Regions from separate parts of the Homo sapiens genome. Here region 1 is linked to region 2. Evidence: fine-mapped expression QTL. A gene starts in region 2. The other region holds a variant in brackets. All regions are shown on one strand. Distances are from middle to middle. Region 1 has its middle 2.7 kb from the start of OR5K2. Region 2 holds the start of CLDND1 (claudin domain containing 1).

What was found. PIP is the estimated chance that this variant, and not a neighbour inherited with it, causes the effect. A credible set is the group of variants that fine-mapping cannot tell apart.
Region 1: its variant is the best candidate, but not a certain one, in a credible set for the expression of CLDND1 in esophagus mucosa (GTEx, PIP 0.79).

Annotation. Positions count from the first base shown.
Region 1 is chr3:98,498,900-98,501,823 of GRCh38, reverse strand. No RefSeq gene overlaps it. Among named protein-coding and RNA genes, the nearest start is that of OR5K2, 2.7 kb to the right of the region's middle. The variant A/T (reference allele first, on the strand shown) is at 1,579.
Region 2 is chr3:98,521,239-98,524,162 of GRCh38, reverse strand. It overlaps CLDND1 (claudin domain containing 1), which reads left to right and starts at 1,261. Exons shown (of 5, transcript NM_001040181.2): 1 at 1,261-1,314; 2 at 2,721-2,924. The coding sequence starts at 2,739. CLDND1-AS1 (CLDND1 antisense RNA 1) reads right to left here and starts at 1,593. Exons shown (of 2, transcript NR_198998.1): 1 at 1,330-1,593. RefSeq lists silencers at 1,015-1,654, 1,705-1,814.

The DNA.
Region 1 (2,924 bases), 22 kb after region 2:
GTTCATACCTATATCTCCTGCCCAGTAAAACTGAATAATTTTTTTATAAAGAATGTACAGCTCAACAGTTAACTGTTTACTGTATAAGATTTTCTTTTTAAAATAATGTATTTGGCTTATTTTTTTCTTTTAAGGTTTTCTTAAGGTTTAAAGGAACAATTAATATTTTATCTCTTTTTTTGTTAACTTCGGTACAAAAATGCAGTTGATGACTTGACAAAAGGGCTGCATCTATGGCTTGAAGGTGCAGCCCTTTCATCAAGTCATCAACTGTATTTTTGTACTGTTGAATTTCTCCAACAGTGACAAAGGAGAGCATGCTTCCAGCTGGAGCTGAGTCCAAGCACACAGCCACTCCTGCACACGCATGCGTGCAAACAGGGAAGCCCAAGTAGGAGAAGAGGAAAGAGGTTGTAGGGATTTGGGAAGAACCTTGATTATTCCCTGGAGGAAAAGACAAATCTACTTCCCTGAAATCACCCTCGAATCTACTTCCACCCTCAGAACTTAAAATGAACTGCATCCTTTTTTTCATCTTCTTTTCTTCTCCAGTGAATATGATCTCCAAACCCTTATTTTTTCTTTGAACTGTAAAATTTCCACTCATGGACGATGCAACCAACAGATGCAATCTCTGAGAAGATGAAAATTGGGACCTCTTATTATAAAATTGACCTAGCTGGACTCAGGAAACCAGGGAAGAAGTCAATGCAGGCATTTAAAATGTAAAGTTTTTTCTGGTTAAATCTATTTATTTTTCTTGTAGGTTGAGTATTTCTTCCCAGTTTTTCTGCTCTGGTGTATAACAAACAGGTCAAAATTTCCCATCTTTCCTCCTGATAGTAGTTGAATCCTACCTTGCATACTTAATGCATAGTGAAATGGCATCTAGCAGAAATACACACCCCCAAAACACACCACCATTTCATTAGGTGCCCAAAAAATTCTGTATTTAGCTTATTTATTTATTGTTATTTTTGCTTTTTCTTAACCCACTATATATTGACTGCAAACGAATTAATAAATTATCCCTTCTGGAACTTTTTGGTCTTTTCTTTTTTTTAATGTTTTCACTATAAAAGGTAAGCTGAAACATTGAGAAATTGTTCAAATCAGCATATTTTATAATTCACAACTACAACTTGGTAAATATTTTTACTGTAAGTAAGCACTGAAATAATGAAGTATGATGAGAGGCAGTAGTTTTTAATGCAAAGATGCAAAGTTATAAATTTAAATGTTCAGAGGGGCCAGGGAGGTGACATAAGAATTGTTGCCACTTTTTCAAGAAAAGTCAATTTTTGCTTTTATAAAAATTTTTAATAAAAATTTTAAATAAAAATTCTCCTGATATTTAAATTTCTTAAAATTAATTTTCCAAAGAACACTATGCTGTTCTGCATTGCGTGGGATAAACGATTCTGTGCAATCTCTGGGTGACCTTTTGTGATTTCTTATGTAATAATTGAGAATGTAGTTTTTGTAGTCAGGCAGCCTGGGGTTCAGGTCATGCAGACTCCTGTGGGTCACTGAACAAGTGACTCAACCATACTGTGCTTCATATTCTCACCTGTCACA[A/T]GGGATAATAATTGCAATTCTTTCACAGGATTTATGAGGGTTGGATGAGGTAATGTGTATACACAGCTTAGCACATGGACGCATAGTAAGTATCCAAGTACATTTGGTGATGCTGATGGACGTGCATTAGGCAAAAACTCAACTGATGGGGTTTAAATTTGAAACAGGCAAGGAAATACTGAAATGTCTGAGTATAATTGGAATGAACTAGGTTAGGTTTTCTTGGAGGTTACAAATATACACTATATTTTTATAGTTTTTCATTCATGATTTAGGGAATTATATCTAGAAATATATCTGTTTTCTACTCCCTTTTCTATATAGACTCAGCATGCTGATTTTCCATGTGATGCCAGCCTCTGGTGGCTGGCTAGCTTGAGGCCCACTGCAATCTGACAACTGCCTTCTGGAAATTTAGATGTGACCACAGAGCATCAAGAGAGGAGGTGGAAGGGAGAATTTTTCTGTTACTTGTTATGGGTCCTCCTTGTTCCAGAAGTTAGTAATTAAAATAATGGCAATGTTCTATTATTTAAGAAGATGAAAAGAGTGGTGTCTTGGTCATTAATATGTCTCAGCATCTAGAACAGTGCTTGCACATAGCAGAATCTCAATAAATATATGTAGAGTGAATAATTGGAAAGTATCTCTTTAATGATGTCACATAAGATTATTAGGTTCTATCCATATTAAACGACTTTAAGTTTTGCAATGGTGAAGGAATAAAAGAAAATATTTGAGATAAGCCCTGTCCACAGTCCCACAATCACACTTTTTTACATGTCTGTATATAATATACCCAAAGGTTGTGTCTCCATTGTTTAACCCCTTCCTCACCTCTCAGGAATGGGCACAGAGAAGTTTAGCCTAACTCACTGACAATGAAGGCTCTTCAGATCTACATGAAGTTTGAAATGTTTGTCTAGAACTTTATGATATGGTATCTTTATGCATGTAGGTTTTGGAGTAAATAAAACTTAATGTAACCTATCTTGAAATTTGACATTCTGATTTTAATTATTTAAATGTTTAAATCATTTAACAACAACTTCTATTTGGAAATATAATATTCACTTTTATTGGCACAATCACTTCCTGACTACCTCATTCTAACTACAATAATGTCCCCCACATGCTATTACATTTTCTTCCTCAAAATTCACTTGCCATTTTTGTTGCTCATGGATATAAGTGAGTTCGTTGGTTGACTGTTCACATGATCTTAAACACTTAACTGTAATGCACATGTTGTAAGCTATAGAGTGGGCTGGTTATCAAAGCCCGCTTTGTAAATGGTATGGCTTTTTATATTTGTAACTGGTAGTTTTGCTGTTGTTTTGGGTGTT
Region 2 (2,924 bases):
TTTTTGATTATATGCTGTATATGAAAATCCAGAGTCATGTTTGAATATATTTGGCTACTACCTTATTATGTGCTGCATATGAATATCAGTTTCACCCACTCAGGTCAAAGAAATGTAAGTACAGATAGAGAAACATATCATGCCTTTAATCTGTCAAAGTGGTAGAAATTTAATATCAACTTGCAGCTCCCATCTTTCTCCTATGCTAAATTACAAGGCATTAGGGGACAGAGTGGGGGTTTGAGAGCCCCTCTGGTCCTTGAGTCAGCTTTCTCTGTCGGTTACTGTTGAGAAATCCACCATTTGCTGGTCCCAGGCCACGTTAATAGTTCCACTCATGTTATTGTTAAGATGTCCCTGCTTCCTGTCCATGAATTTCTGTGTTAAACCTGAGGGTTCAGAATCATTGTTGCCCCTGTGCCACACATCATCTGCAATCTCCAATGCTGTCCATGACCTTATCTGCTTGAGTGATGTTCCCCAAATTTCAGTCTTTTTCCTACTATACCCACAATTTTTTATTCATTTTTTGACATATCTGGTATCCTCAGTATTATTAACTTAATAGTTTTTAAAATAAGTGAAAAGAATTTAAAAGGAACAACATTGCTGCAATAGAAAACTAGTATCACTTGTCATAAAAAGAAGGCAGCTACAAACACATTTTATGAAACCCAAATAATATCATTACATTCTTGATGGATACTGTCTGCCAGGTCACATACTTCTTAGCCTAAACTTATGCAATAAAACCAGAAGGATGCTCTGCTCCAATGGGAGGGATTCTGGGAGAGGGAAATAAAATGGGTCAACGTTTCACAAGTAGAATCCCATTTTTGTTCATTTATACTTAGATCTAGAGGCAGGGTGGTGTGATAGGGAAAGCACAGGCCTAAAAGTCAGATCTAAGTTATACAAGTCACGGTCATTGACTCGAGATGACCGGAAACAGGCCCGCTTTACTTTCTGGACCATTCTCCCTTCCTCCCTAAAATGCAAGAATCCAACAGCCTAGACTTCCCTTCTGCGTACCGGCTTGCCCTGAGGAGCTGAACTACATCTCCCACAATGCGCCGCGCGCGGCGCCAGGAATGCCTATCGCCGCCTCAGACAGCTTTCAGTCTGTCCCTCCTACAACTCCCACAAGGCCCCTCGGCCCCGGGCCGCGGCCCGGCCCGGAGTGGGGGCGGGCGGAGGCGCGGGAGTTATGGAGGGGGCGGGCTCTGCAGGGAAGTGCGTCAGAGGAGGCGCGGGGAGAGTAGGGTGCTGTGGTCTGAGCTAGAGGGTGAAGCTGGCGGAGCAGGAGGATGGGCGGTGAGTGAGCGGGACCTGCGTCGCCGGGCAGGGGTCGCGTCGCGGTTCCATGTTCCCGGCGGTTTGAAGAGGGGCCCCCTTCCCGGGCGTGGTCGGGCTGGGCGGGTTCCGAGCGGCGGATTTGTCCCAGGGCCGAGCCCTCTAGGGCGGGGCCTGGTCGGGTACCGGGGGACCCTGGCCCGGGGCCGAGCACGGCTGCCCCGCCCCAGCCCTGGCCTTCTCCGGCCCCGCCGTGAGGCCCAGGAGGTGGCTGCTGCAGGCGTCCGGCTTGGACGAACCGCCGTTCCCAGTGCTGGGACCCTTTAAGGTCATTTGAGAGCACCAGGATGAAGGGGGGATTTTTAAAAAATCAAAATACAAATCCAACTTTTTGAGTTTTCGTTGTCATTGCTCTTATCTTTCCTGAGTCACTTCCCATTTTCCAAACTCAGCAACCCCAGTTTGCGAGTCTGTTTTCATGAACCTTTGTAAGGTGTTTGGTGCGGTCACGGTGTATACTTGCCGTGTAGTATTTGACTCAGCGCGATCTGCCTTGAGTCATTTTACCGCGGCCATTTACTACTGCCGTTGAGCCCTGTCCACGCCTTGGGAGTGTTGATATGTTGAGAGTTTTCTGTCTGGCTGAGGAGGGATCATTTAGTTTTTGCGGACGTATGTTGCACTGAGGATTTAGGGAGAGAGCAAGATTTCTGTTGAGGAGGTTCAGAAGTATAAGGAATCGGGAGAGTAGATAGGAGTGAAGCATTTGGCAGCGTAAAGAAGCTTGGCTTAGCTTTAATGGATTAGGGAGAGATTGCTATCTAGCATTATTACATGTTATTGTTCTCTTTGCTATTTTATACACCTAGAACAACCTTTCCCTCGGGGTTAACAAACATCTTCAACTCTGTTTTCTGTATGGCTCCTGACTCTTACCTTTGTTTTAGGAGGCTTCCCTCTTCAGAGGAAACTGGGAGAAGCCAATTTCCACTGCTTCTTTTTCCTGTGCCTTTTTAACACTCAAACCCAGAACACTTAATCCTCTGCAGCTCGTGCAAAAATTCAGTCTGTAATTTAAAATGTGTGCACGGTACACTGCTGACCATGGGCATGTCTATTGTTTGTATCTGTAATGTGTATGTCCATTTCAGTGTTGTCTGTTTTAGTATGCAGGTGATAGACTAGAGAACAAGACCTCTGTCTCCGTAGCATCCTGGGTATGTGAGCATTCAATAAGTACTTTTATGAGAATGAGTTTTGTTTTAAGCTTAATTAAAAACATGCTTGCTTTCTAAAAAAAATTCTTAATGGTTATATGTACGAAGGGATGGGGAATTGGGTAAAGGGTGCATTTGGAATAATTCAAAATAATCTTTCTTATTTGTCCGTAAACTCTAACTTATCTTCTTTCTTCAACTTCTAAACAGAGCAGTCTGAATGCCAGAATGGATAACCGTTTTGCTACAGCATTTGTAATTGCTTGTGTGCTTAGCCTCATTTCCACCATCTACATGGCAGCCTCCATTGGCACAGACTTCTGGTATGAATATCGAAGTCCAGTTCAAGAAAATTCCAGTGATTTGAATAAAAGCATCTGGGATGAATTCATTAGTGATGAGGCAGATGAAAAG